Homo sapiens: one gene and its partner. The protein of the gene in region 2 interacts with the protein of the main gene of each other region in a pairwise test. Each region holds a gene or a part of one and is shown on either strand. Other genes may lie near its edges.

Region 1 (5,884 bases), on a different chromosome or scaffold from region 2:
ATGACGTACATGGCCTCAAGGGAGTTCCAGAGGATGTTTTAGGCTCCAGGAGCCATTTAAGGGATGTTTCTTTCCAAAGAAAATGTTCATGTCATGAATTTTATTCCACTAACATAATCTGAACATACGGGTCTACCTTTAAATAATGGGCCAGATGACCCCTGTTTATCTAGGAGTGCAGTCTTCTGTCAGGGCAGATGTCCTTTCTACTGTGGAGAATTGCATTTTGAGACCCTATGAGTCTGAGCATATCTGTAAGGGGCTGCTGCTGTCTATTATTAGGGCGGCCTCTTTAGCTTTGGCTCTACACCATGTGGCTTGAAGATTTTCCTTGAATTTGACCTGAGCCCCTGACCCCACCCACATTGCTGGGGAGGAGGGGCCCGTTCTGGACTCTGGCACCTGTAACTCCTGACCCCCGGTCTTGCTTGCAGCGGAAAAGGAGAGGCAGAAGAGGGAGGTGCACACTCAGCCACTCTGGGCATCCTTCCTGGGTGGACTGGGCCCCCTGCAGGGCCTGCTCTCACCTACCCAGGAGCACAGCTGATCTCGGCTGGGTCTCCCTCAGCACACTCAGGATGTGTGGGGCAGGTGTCTGCGAGTCCCCGGGGGACTCAGGTTCCTGGCCAGTCTCACTGCCCCCTGCCCCAGCATTGAGACCCTCATGTGGCTGCAGATGTGGCTGATAGTGCCAATCAAGGGAGCCTCTGTCTTCCCAAACTTAAATTTCCCCTCCCATAACCTATAACTTCAGCCCCCTCCATTTTCTGAGCTAAGCTCCAATTAGTGAAAACAAAGTCAAGTGGGAGTCAGGGGACAGGAAAGTGGCCCAGGGGTGGGGCAGAAGAGGGGGAAGGGACAAGTCTCTCTCGAATGGATCCAGAGTGAGCTCCTCCCTCTTGCGAGTAGCCATGCTGCCAAGACGCTGACCTTCAGATGCGCAAGGCTCATGTCTCCTCCCCAGCCCTGGGACCCTCTGGAGGCTGCAGGTCCTGATTGCTGTGCCAGTCACAGCAGGAACAGGCCCCAAAAACGTCACATCTCCAGGAAATAAGACCAAGGTTCCACCTAACCAGTTCAGCTCTCACCTCCCTCCCAAAATGTTCACAGGGGAAACCATGGGCCAAACTATGTAACATGAAATCTACAACCTTTTTGCCCTGACTCCAACCTGGTACTGCCACGAGCAAGTCAGGGTTTTGCGTTGACTGAGTGGGATTTGGGTCATCAATTCCAATCAGATTTCTGGAGAAGGCTCTTCTTTCCCTGATGATTGAGGTCTTCATTGCAGTCCTCTCGGTGGAAGGAGAGGCCTTCCTGGAAGTCCAAACAGTTCTCTTTTCCTCCCTCTGGCTAATTTCTTGTTCAGCTGAAGCAGAGCCTGCCTCGATGAGGGAGTTCCTATTAGGTTTCTTAATTTTTAAGAGACATCACCAGAAGTGAATTCCTCTGTAAATCAGCAGTGCTTTATTTTTCTGTTGCAGAATGAGTTTGTGATCCTGGTTTTCTACAATTCTTTAGCAAATGTGTTTTTGTAATCTCACGTTCAACCCTTCCTTTATTGATGTATCTAGCATGCTGAAAGGGAATCAGTTTCCCCTGCTATTCTCAAGACACTGGTTGAGGGAGGAGACTTCAATTCTTCACTACATCTCACTAATTTTACTCTGCAATTCATTATAGTCCAGGTAGTTAGATTAGTTCCAACTGTGCCAGGAAATTTTGAGGAATGAACAAAATTAGATTTTTTTTTCCTTTTTTTTTTAAAAGATGGGGTCTCACTATGTTGCCCAGGCTGGTCTTGAACCCTTGGGCTCAGACGATCCTGCCGTCTCTGCCTCTTACAGGCATGAGCCACTGTGCGTGGCTTCAATGTTAGATGTGTTCTTGGCAGCATGGTCTTCTAAGCCATCTGAGGCAGCACCATCTCTTTTGAGTTTCCTGGCATGTACCAGAGACCTTCCTGAAACTTTTCCTTAATGAGCTTTGGAAGGGCATTGGGATCTTGATCTTTCCCATCTGGTAATGAATTATTTTTAAAGAAATATTTAAGAAAAATTATTTAGAAGTGAAAGGATGTAGGAGACAGTCGGCCTGGTGTGATGTGAGAAAGACTGGACCTGGTGGTCATTGCTGGCTTTCAAGCTGGAAAGGGACCAGGAGTGAAAGAATGTGGGTTCTTCTATAGACTAGAAGAGGAAAGAAAAAGAACTCTTTTTCAGAGATTCCAAGGGGAACACAGCCTAGAGGACAACTTAATTTTAGCCTAGTGAGTCTCATTTTAGATTTCTGACCTCTAAGTCTGTAAGATAATAAATTTATTTATTTATTTATTTATTTAGAGACAAGGTCTCACTCTGTCACCCAGGCTGGAGTGCAGTGGCGTGATCTTCGCTCACTGCGGCCTCTTCCTCCTGGGTTCAAGCGATTCTCCTGCCTCAGCCTCCCAAGTAGCTGGGATTACAGGTGCATGCCACCATGTCTGGCTAATTTTTGTATTTTTAGTAGAGAGGGGGTTTCGCCATGTTAGCCAGGATGGTCTCGAACTCCTGACCTCAAGTGATCTGCCTGCCTTGACCTCCCAAAGTGCTGGGATCACAGATGGGAGCCACCGTGCCTGGCCGGTAACACATACTTTCCACCCTATATAAATGAAAACATGTTCACATGGAAACCTGTACACAAATGTTTATAGCAACTCTATTCACACTTGCCCCAAAGTACAAACAATCCAGATGTCCTTCCGTGGCTGAATGAACAAACTACAGTGCATCCATACAATGCAATGTGTCCACTGACACTTGTGACAACTTGGATGGAGCTCAAGAACATCATGCTGACCAAAAAAAGTCAGTCTCAAAGGTTACATACTGTATGATTCCATTTATATGACATCCTGAAAAAGGCTTAACTGTAGTGATGAACAGATAAGTGGTTGCCAGAAGTTATGGGTGAGGGTAGGGGTGGCTACAAAAGGGTAACGTGAAGGAGTGGTTTTTGGGTGACAGAAACATTCTGTATCTTAACTGCGTTTGTAGTTACACAAATCTGTTATAAAATTAATAAACTAGGCCAGATGCGGTAGCTCACACCTGTAATCCCAGCACTTTGGGAGGCCAAGGTGGGTCGATCACTTGAGGTCAGGAGTTCGAGACTAGCCTGGCCAACATGGTGAAACCCCATCTCTACTAAAATACAAAAATTAGCTAGGCGTGGTGATGCACGCCTGTAATCCCAGCTACTTGGGAGGCTGAGGCAGGAGAATCGCCTGAACCTGGGAGGTAAAGTTTGCAGTGAGCTGAGATCGCATCACTGCACTCCAGCCTGGGCCACAGAGGGAGACTCCCTCTCAAAAAAAAAAAATTTAATATACTGTACACCAAAAGGAAGTCAGTTTTGCTGTATATTGATTAAAAAATGCTACAACCAAAAAGGCAAATCAACAAAGCTTTATGAGTGTATAGGCACCTATGAATGTTGGGTTTTGAATGGAAAAAAAAAGTGACAGGAAATATACAATGTTTAATGCTGGTTACTTTGGAGGGGGCAAAAATGATTCAGTTTTTCAGTGTACGTTTTTGTATTGTTTTAATTATTTCAATTAGTATATAGTGATTTTGAAATTTGAGAAACATCTACTGAAAATGGAAAATATCTGGAAAAATATTTAAAAAGAGGAAAAAGAGTATTTCTGCTTTATTGGGTACCTGTTGACAGGGTAGTAAACAAGACAAATCCATCTCCATTCTTTTTTTTCTTTTGAGATGGAGTCTCGCCCTGTCACCCAGGCTGGAGTGCTGTGGTGTGATCTTGGCTCACTGCAACCTCTGCCTCCTGGGTTCAAGCGATTTTCGTGCCTCAGCCTCCCAAGTAGCTGAGACTACAGGTGCCCGCCACCACGCCCGGCTATTTATCTCCATTCTTATGGAGCACAGCGTGGTGGAGTTCAGTCCACACGCTTACAGGTGGCTTATCTGCAAAATGTGTCTAAAAAGAAATTTTATAGGATAAATATTTTGTACATGTTTGAAACAGTGCTTGGCACAAATGAATAAATGTAATGCAAGCTGCTATTAATACATCATCTCCGAATTGGGAGAATCATTGCGATCACATCGTTGTGATTACACAAAAGCCTCTGTCATGTAATAGGGCTCAGTAAACGTCAATTTCCATAGCATTTCGAGCCTGGATACTGAAATATGGGGCAAAAAGCAGGAACATGCCCCTGGTTTGGCTCTTGCCTTCTTGCATTTCCTGGGTTTCCTCATTTATCTTTTTTTTTTTTTTTTTTGGCCTTGTTATCTTTCTACCTTCAGGGAAGCCTCTCCCTTCTTCTCCTCCCTAGAATGACCTATCACCCTCCTTCAGGACCTAGATGCAGGGCGTTTCTATCTTAGGCTGACACTTGACTCCTTGCCTACATCTATAGCTTGGCACAGAGAGATTCACGCACCCTCAAGAGTGTGGGTGAGACATATACAGCCTGTTAGACCTGAAGGTGAGCCCAACCTGGGAAAATCGTGACCTCAGAGCAGGGCAGGATGTGAAAGGTTTTGGAAAGGAGATAGCCCTGCAGGGCAGGAGGGATTTTTAAGGGGAGGAAGTGGGTTGGGGGAAATACCCAGTGAGGAGGGAAACAGATATGTAAATTCTACCCTTTTCTCTACCCAGGCAGATGGCTCTTCTTAAGGCCAATAAGGATCTCATTTCCGCAGGATTGAAGGAGTTCAGCGTTCTGCTGAATCAGCAGGTGAGTCCAAGCTTTCCATTTCAAAGGACTGGCCTGGAGACTGGGGGGTGCCGGGGAAGTGGAGGAAGAGGATAATTGGAGCTGGTGAAGTAATGGTGGAGTTGATGGAAACAACGAGAGACACGGGATACAATGCAGAGGAAAGAGAATGTGAGAGTTGGTGCTGTGGCACTATTCTAGTATTCCCGAATCCCATTGCTGACCACATTCTCCCTTGCCAACTGCCTCTCCGCAACCCCCCAGGTCTTCAATGATCCTCTCGTCTCTGAAGAAGACATGGTGACTGTGGTGGAGGACTGGATGAACTTCTACATCAACTATTACAGGCAGCAGGTGACAGGGGAGCCCCAAGAGCGAGACAAGGCTCTGCAGGAGCTTCGGCAAGAGCTGAACACTCTGGCCAACCCTTTCCTGGCCAAGTACAGGGACTTCCTGAAGTCTCATGAGCTCCCGAGTCACCCACCGCCCTCCTCCTAGCTCAGGGACCCAGCCCCTCCTCTCTGAGAAACTCTGACCTTCATGTCCTTAGGCTGTGCTCCTGCCACTCTACCCTGACACCTCAATAAAGACCAGTGCTGGTTTTGTTGGACTTCCTGGCTTCTCTTTCATGGTCTGTCCTGACATGTGGAGGCACTCGGTCCCTTTCCTTCCGCCCTCCTTCTTAGATATGCTCTTGGAAGCTTAATTCCTTACAGCAGAGGTTAGCAGCCTTGAGTGACCACCGGGCAGCGATTCTAAACTAAAACAGGCTGAACGAGGGCCAGGAAGGCGGGACTAGAGAGAGTGCAGAGCTGCAGGGGAGGGGGTGGCAGAAACAAGAAAGGGGGATAGAAGTCCTCCAGACATTGTCCTGTGACCTGCTTGTCGAGGAGGAAACTGTTGGAAGTCTCCCAGTCTTGTTCATCCTGCGCCAGGTCCACCGCCTCGACTTTTCAATCCCCTGTCCTTAGCCCCAGCTCAAACTACATTCTAGGATCTTCGGACTCTGACTACCGCAAAATACCTCCCCGGAGCCCCAGGCATCGCAGGAATTTAGAGTTGGAAGGGATCCTGGGAACCCTTTAGCGCGCCCCTTATATTTCAGGAGGGGAAGCCACTTCCCTTTGGCTCCAACATCCCTGGGCGCAGATG
Region 2 (7,206 bases):
CAGTTCATTTTCAATCCATAAAGAATCAAGCAAAAGAATATAAACTTCCCTTAAACTAAGAAAAACTTAGATTGGCAATTAAGCATAAGTTTCAATAAAGAGACATACATCAGTTAGAGGTTGCAGACTTGTCAAAATTCACACTGTGGACCTTCTTTTGAAACAACTTTATTCCAGTGATATCTGGATAAAATTAACAATAATCAAAACAAGCAATATTTGGGAGAAGGTTGAAAAGAAGGTCTCTCTTGGCAATGTTGAGGACATATTTCTGGACTGATTGCATATAGTCAAGCTTCATATTTTGTATACTCATTCTGCTGTGCTGCCTCCTCTGTCTAAGTCACTGTGTAACAGGAAGAGTAGAGAAGATCAAAGTCAGCCTGGATCCATTTACTAAGGATGGAAGTCTCTGCTATCAGGGAGTACGTCAAGTTGTGAATAGACTTCTTAGGGATAATAAAGTGCCTCTCTTTGTAAAACCTTCAGAAGTGAGCAGACACTACCAATTCTGAAAAGTTCAAGATTTTGCCTTTTGGGAAATGAAAGACCTTCCAGCTGTCTACTCCATGATTCTAAAATGATGCACTCTTCTATGAGCATGTCTACAAAAATATATGATGACACTCGGCTGGAAAACATTTTCTCTTCACCTTTAAATCCATTATAAAAATGAGTAATTTCTGTTACTGAAAATATTTTTTAAAGGCAAAATAGCTCTCAATAGAAAAGATTTAAGTAAGGAAGCCAGGATACATCATTCTATAAAAATTAATAAGCTCAGCATAACATTTCAGTCAAGAAAAGTCATTGCTTACAGACAGATGCCTGTAAATCTCACTGAAGCAGCATGTTTTAAAATTTCCCCAGCCCCAGGAGATTGTATTAAGCAGAGGAAGACAGAAGCTCTAGAGGCACTGGATTCCTGGACTGCGTTTCTGGTGTGAAGCAGCTAGAATTGGCAATATGTACACTCTTAAAAATTTTCTGAGCTGAACCATTCTTTACAGACAGAAAAGGGAGTTTTAAGAATCTCCTTTCTCAGGGACTTTTAAGAGGTCTTGGTTACTGTGGATATTACCAAGCCAAGGACATTATGTGGATGACCAAATTTTCTTCTATAAAATCCATTTCACCACATATTTTACTAGTTTTCTTGCTTGGGATCCAAAAGTGAATGAATTTTAGAGGCAGGTGGAATTATGTCTATATAATTAGTGGCAGTAATTAACTTTTGACACAATGCGACTATTTCTCATTCTCAAAGAGACTTAAGTATGAATTTTCCTCAGAACTTCTTCCGCAAGATACATATTTGTGACTGTCTTTATTTTCGACAATGCCTCTAATGGTGAGCAAGCTGGTTTAGATGAAACGTGCTGCAATGTCTTTAAGAGGCAGAATAAATACACAACGACAATTTTAAAATCAAGCTTTTCTGTGCTCTGGTTTAAACTTTCTTATCATGTGTGACCTATTATTCCCATTTAAATAATCTCGTTTTTAATTAAGATGTTAATTTCATAAGAAAATAACTTGTCAAAAAATCCCAATGCTTTACTGTTCAGTAAAAATCAATTAAATGAACACCCAGCAAGACATTTTTATTGATGACAGGCTCAGGCACTTATTTTCTGGTGCTTGTTAGCTCTTATAAAACAGATAATCCTGGCTAAATCAAATAGGGACTATGACTTGGGCTTAGACTTTCAGGTTCAAATTAATCAGACATTTGAAAGGTGTTCCAACTTCCCTTCAGCTGAGATAGAAAATGATAGCACTCTAAAAGCAGAGCCTGGCAGAATGGAGTTACATAAAATGCCTTTTCAATTTTTGCATTCTATTACCCTTTACTATTATAGGAAAATGGTGTTATCACCTGATTACTGAGAAAGCACACAAAAATCTCGCCTTCCAAATCTGAGCCAGTCCTTGACTGGTGACAAACAAAGCAAGGCCATCTGGTCTGAATATCATTACTACTTTTGCCATTTGGGCAAGGGATCTATCTTCTTTGCTTCAAAGAGAGGTTTAAGATTGGAAAATAGAAATGAAATAAGTAGACAGGAAGAAACATTGGAACAAATAGTTCATTCGAATGAGAGCCCCCTTTCTTAAGTTACAATCATTACCATCATTTTTATTTTTATTCTTGCCAGAGTTAACCTTTAGGGTCCCTATTTTACAAAACATTTTAGTGAAAAAAGAAGAAAAAACTTAATTCTGGAGTTTCTGCATTAAACACTTAGGAAAGGAAACGGACGTGTGGGTGAATATGAGTCATCGGTCACCCCCACCCTGCTTCCTGGTGATTCTCCATTGGAAAACCAGAAACACAGGTTGAGCTTACATTTCTGTTTTTCTGGAATCACATTATGCCCTAGGCCATGTTAATTTCCTCAACTAAACAGACCCTAATCTGCTGAAAGGCAGCTGGCTAACTGCTGGTGTCTGGCAAGTGCCCCATCTGTCCCCGTGCCTGGGGTCTCTCCCTCCTGCCTTCACTTTCCCTTTCTCGCAAACAGGCGTCTCTCTTTGTTTTCAGGGGTTTGTTCACCTGAACTTTCCTTCCTATGCCTGTCAACTTGAGCTCTTTCCCTCTGCCCTGCGGACCTCGGGCTTTGTCTAAGTGGCAAGACACAGTTGTGTGACTATAGTTACCGCGCTGGTGATGGTGGCTATGATGACGGTGATGGTGGAGATGGGGGTGCTGATGTGTAAGGGGGCGCAGGCTGAGCGGGCGCCGGGAGGAGGATGGACCGCGGAGGCGGCGGGGAGCGGGGTGCGGTGCGGGAGGGATGGAGTGCAGAGGGATTGCAGATGGGAGCTGTCCACATACCGAAGTGCTGAAACGCCGCAGCCATGGCATCGAAAGAGCGGGGGAAAGGCGGGGAGGCTCGGCAAATACAGAGGGGAGAAAAAAGGTAACAAATACCTTCACACGGCCGCCCAGCCTTGCTTTGGGAATGTATTTCTGCAGGTGTCCTCGCTGCTGAACTGGGTGGGTGAGATCCCCTATTCTGGCAGGTTCGGGCTCAGATTTCTCTAGAAAGCTGTGAATGAGAGCTCGGGCTCCACAAGGGGCTGTGATTTTGGTAGGAGGCGTGTGCGCCCGATTCTCTGTCCTTCTATACGGAGCCTAGCTTTCCCCTGGGTCCTAAATGCCTCCGTACCACAACCCTCCCTGGTTCCGTTGAGACGTACCAATAATTATTTGTAATTTTGTTAACATCTGGGACAAAAAGTACCAGCGTCATCACTCCCCACACAACATTAAAAATAGAATATTTCAAACGGATTAATGAAAGCGCAAAAGCAGATGTGTGTGTCTGTGTGTGTGTGTGTAAATTTGACAGGTAAGAAAGTATCACAAACCTATGGGAATTATTTTACTAACAAATGGTATTAAGAAAATGAACTATTTGAAAAGACTCAAATCAAAGTCTTTTCACCAAAATAAATTACACATAGATGTTTTTATCAAAAACATAAAATTTAAAAATATAACTAGAAGAACAGAAATATTTTACCGATCTCAGGATAGGAAAGGTTTTCTAAGCACAAGAGGAATAGAAGACATAAAAAAGAAAAAGATCGGTAAGTTTGAGTGCATAAAAACACTCCTGAATGTCAGAATATAAAAAAAGTAAATACAAATTACCACTTTAAAAAATTGCAGCAAGTAGATGTTTCATACACAAAGTATCACATATAAGAGAAACACTAACAGCCTTTTAGAAAAAAAGGAGGAATGTTAAATGACAAAGAATTTATAGAAGAAATGGGGATGCATAATAAACACATTTTTTTAATATCAACCTCGCCAGTAAATGAAAATATGCAGTTTAATATGGCAGTTTGGGCTGAAGTTTTAAATATGCATGTCTTATATTGTTGGAATAATAGTGAGAAAGCATAACATTTTTAAAAATCTATTTCACAATGTATATCCAGTGTCATAAATATACATGGCATTTAGATCCAGTAATTTCACTTCTCGTACCTTATGCTAGGGATATATTCAGATATGCAAAGATTTATGTGTATAAATTTCATTTACGATCATAGAAATTGTCAAAAAATAAAAAAGCATTAATTTTTATATAGCCTGTAATGTTTATAGCTATTAAAACATATTTTTGAAAACTGTTTAAGGCCAAAAAAGAAATACTTGCAAAGTGTTAAGTGAAGGAAAGCAAGATATCAAATACAGCATTCCCATTAGTTAGATCACTATGGGTAAATTTTCTTTTTGCCAAGATAACTTGATTTTCTTACTTGTATTTGCTTAAAGTTTTCACATTTACTAAAAGGTTAGAAAACTTATTAAATATTTTAAAGTAATCTTTCTATCATGTATTTCAAAGACTTTAAAGTCATCAGAATTCTTCCAACTCTAACATAGTATTATATATTTACTTATTTGTTTAGTCATTCTCTCTGATGGAATGTAAGTACCATGTGGCAGATAATTTGTGTGTTTGTTCACTACTGCTTCCCAAGCACTTACAAGTATGCCTGGAACAACATAGCTTATACATTCCCAGAACGAGAGAATCCACATCTGGAAATGATGTAGCAATAAGACAACCATCTAAAACTTAGAGATTCAAAATTGAGAAATGGTTGCAGCAAGCGAAGGAATTTTTGGAGATGGGTTGGGTGTGATATATGGGTGGTAAGTTCTATGCTCTATGGCTCCATAGGGGCTAAGATATTTTTGATAACCACTGGAGCAGATTATTGCAGAAATATTGGCTGATCATCTAATATCCTGAGGCTTGCCCACACTTTCCAGCCCTATTACATATGGGCAGGGCCATGAGCTTACTCTGGCCATGGGCTATGACAATTCCTTACTTAGTCCCCAGGTGACTAAGTAGAACACAGTCTCACTTAGCCCCCTCTTCATTTCAAATTTCCATTCCCACTGTGAACAAAGAAGAAGCCACAGTTATGGGAAGTCACTGGGGCTGCAGAGTTAATTTGTTCTTCTAGCATTACCTAGCCTATCCTGACTAATTCAAACTCAAACTTAAAAAAAAAATGGCCTGCACATTAGATCATAGAAATATTAATGACAGCGTCTTATGTGCTAAAAAAAAAAAAAAAAACTACAGGGAAAACAAAATATGATCCAGTTAACTAGAATATTCTTCCTTCTACAATTTGACCTTATTCCTCACACATTTTCTTGGCTCTTAAACATCCATGCTAGTCACATGTTCAACAATGTGCTGTTTCACCCTTGTAAAATCATCCTGACATCTCCTTCATAAATATAGGTATTTCTCTGGGTATTAAGCCCATTATTCCTGGACTCTCAACTTCAGTGCACCCTCACGTGGATAGAGTCTTTACCTGTCACTGGTCAACACACACAAGGCACTCCCCCTGTACTCAAACCTACATCACAGCAAACCCAACATTAACAGTGCCCTTTAAAGGAGTACAGAAGTGAGTACTGAGTTGGGCGTGCCAGGAGCGAGGTCAGGCAGCATAAAAGATGCTTATAAGCAGGCCGGGCCTTCACCCTTGTCATTGACTGTTTATGCACAAAGGGGTTCATTGAGGAATCCTGGTAAACAAATATGTAGGCAGCTTCCATGTGCGGAGCTGAAATGGAGGTCAAGCAGAGTGTGCAAAACATCAGCACAATGTCAATCAGGGTAAGTGAAGGAAAGGAACTTCCTGAATGATTATATTCTAATCTGTTCTGTGCAAAGGACCTATATGCTTATCAAAGTAGCCCAGTTTCCTTTGCAATGACATTAAAAAGTGTAAAATCAAATTAAGTTCACATCTAGCCAATTTCCCAAGTAAGGCAGTTGCAAATAAGTATTTACAAACAGGATAAGGCATTCTTTACAATATTTTGAAACACATTCCTGGGGGATGTGCTAGTTTTGGGCCTACTTTCTTCCCATAGATGATTGGAAGTCCAAGGCTTATTTTAATTCTGTAAGGCTCCACAGACTTTTTTTTTAGTCCAATCTCATAGTTTCCTTGGAAGTATAACTGTCTGAAGACCTTAGAGGCGCAACTTCCATCTGACTTAATCAATTCCCTATTCCAGTAGCCACACCATAGGTCTTTAGAGGCACAGAGCTTAGATCTGCTATATTTATTTGCTTTTTCACTTCTATATCTTTCATAATGTATGTGAGTCTCTCTGGAGTAGTAAGTAGTAAGGCCAGATCATTTACCTGATCTCTTCTTTGAGACATTCTAAACCACTGAGAGATTTTAAGTAGACATGAAGGTCACACCCTTAATCTTATTCTTGGCATAAATATTTAGTTTTAACAGACTTTGCCTCAAATGCTTACTTAATTTTACCTCTTTCTTTTGGGAGCAAAATGTATTGGCTTTTCCAACATGGCAAGACCTTGGAATTATGGAAATATTTGTTCTTCTTTATTTGCACTTTAATAACCAGGCTTTTCTTTGTTTATTATCTTGCAAAAGCAGCAAGTAATAACCAAGACACACTACCGACACTTTGGTCTTTACCCACTTCTCACTAAAAATGTGAATTAAGTACACAATCTTTTTGTATGATTGACACATAATAGTTGTATACATTTATGGGGTACAATATGATGTTTTGATACGTATATTCATTGTGTAATGACAAAATTAGGGTAATTAGTACATTTATCACCTTAAACATTTACTTTTTCCTTTGTGATGAGAACATTCAATAACCTCTTTTCTAGCTATTTTGAAATATACAGTACATTACTGTTAACCCTAGTCATTCTGCTATAGCAGTGGAACACCAGAACTTATTCATCCTCTCTAACAGTAATTTTGTATCTGTGGCCAGTATCTCATTACCCTCCCTCTGTCCTGCCCTCTCCATCCTGTGGTAACCACTATTCTACTTTCTACTTCTATGACAACAACACTTTAGATTCCACAGATGACTGAGACCATGAGATATTTTTCTTTCTCTATCTGACTTATGTCACTTAACATAATGTCCTTCAGGTTTATCTATGTTGCCACAAATGTCAGGATTTCATTCTTTGTTACAGGTAAATAGTATTCCATTGTGTATATATACTACTTTTAAAAACACTTACACTTAGGCCGATTCCATATATTGGAATATATTGGAATAACTTACTTCTAAGTTATTGCAGGTGACCATTTTGCCAAATGTTTTATGACTGCACAACACAAATTGCTGTTTCCCACCTT

What was found.
Region 1: the proteins of CLVS1 (region 2) and AHSP interact in binary tests that used the Homo sapiens proteins (3 or more experiments, as listed by UniProt).

The regions. Positions count from the first base shown.
Region 1 is NC_000016.10:31,523,462-31,529,345, forward strand, and holds AHSP (alpha-hemoglobin-stabilizing protein), read left to right. Parts: upstream 1-4,438; 5' UTR 4,439-4,501; intron 4,502-4,515; exon of another isoform or gene 4,516-4,553; intron 4,554-4,674; 5' UTR 4,675-4,678; coding exon 4,679-4,753; intron 4,754-4,996; coding exon 4,997-5,230; 3' UTR 5,231-5,342; downstream 5,343-5,884. UniProt on the Homo sapiens protein: Acts as a chaperone to prevent the harmful aggregation of alpha-hemoglobin during normal erythroid cell development. Specifically protects free alpha-hemoglobin from precipitation.
Region 2 is NC_000008.11:61,283,868-61,291,073, reverse strand, and holds the start of CLVS1 (clavesin-1), read right to left. Parts: upstream 3,105-7,206; 5' UTR 2,936-3,104; intron 1-2,935.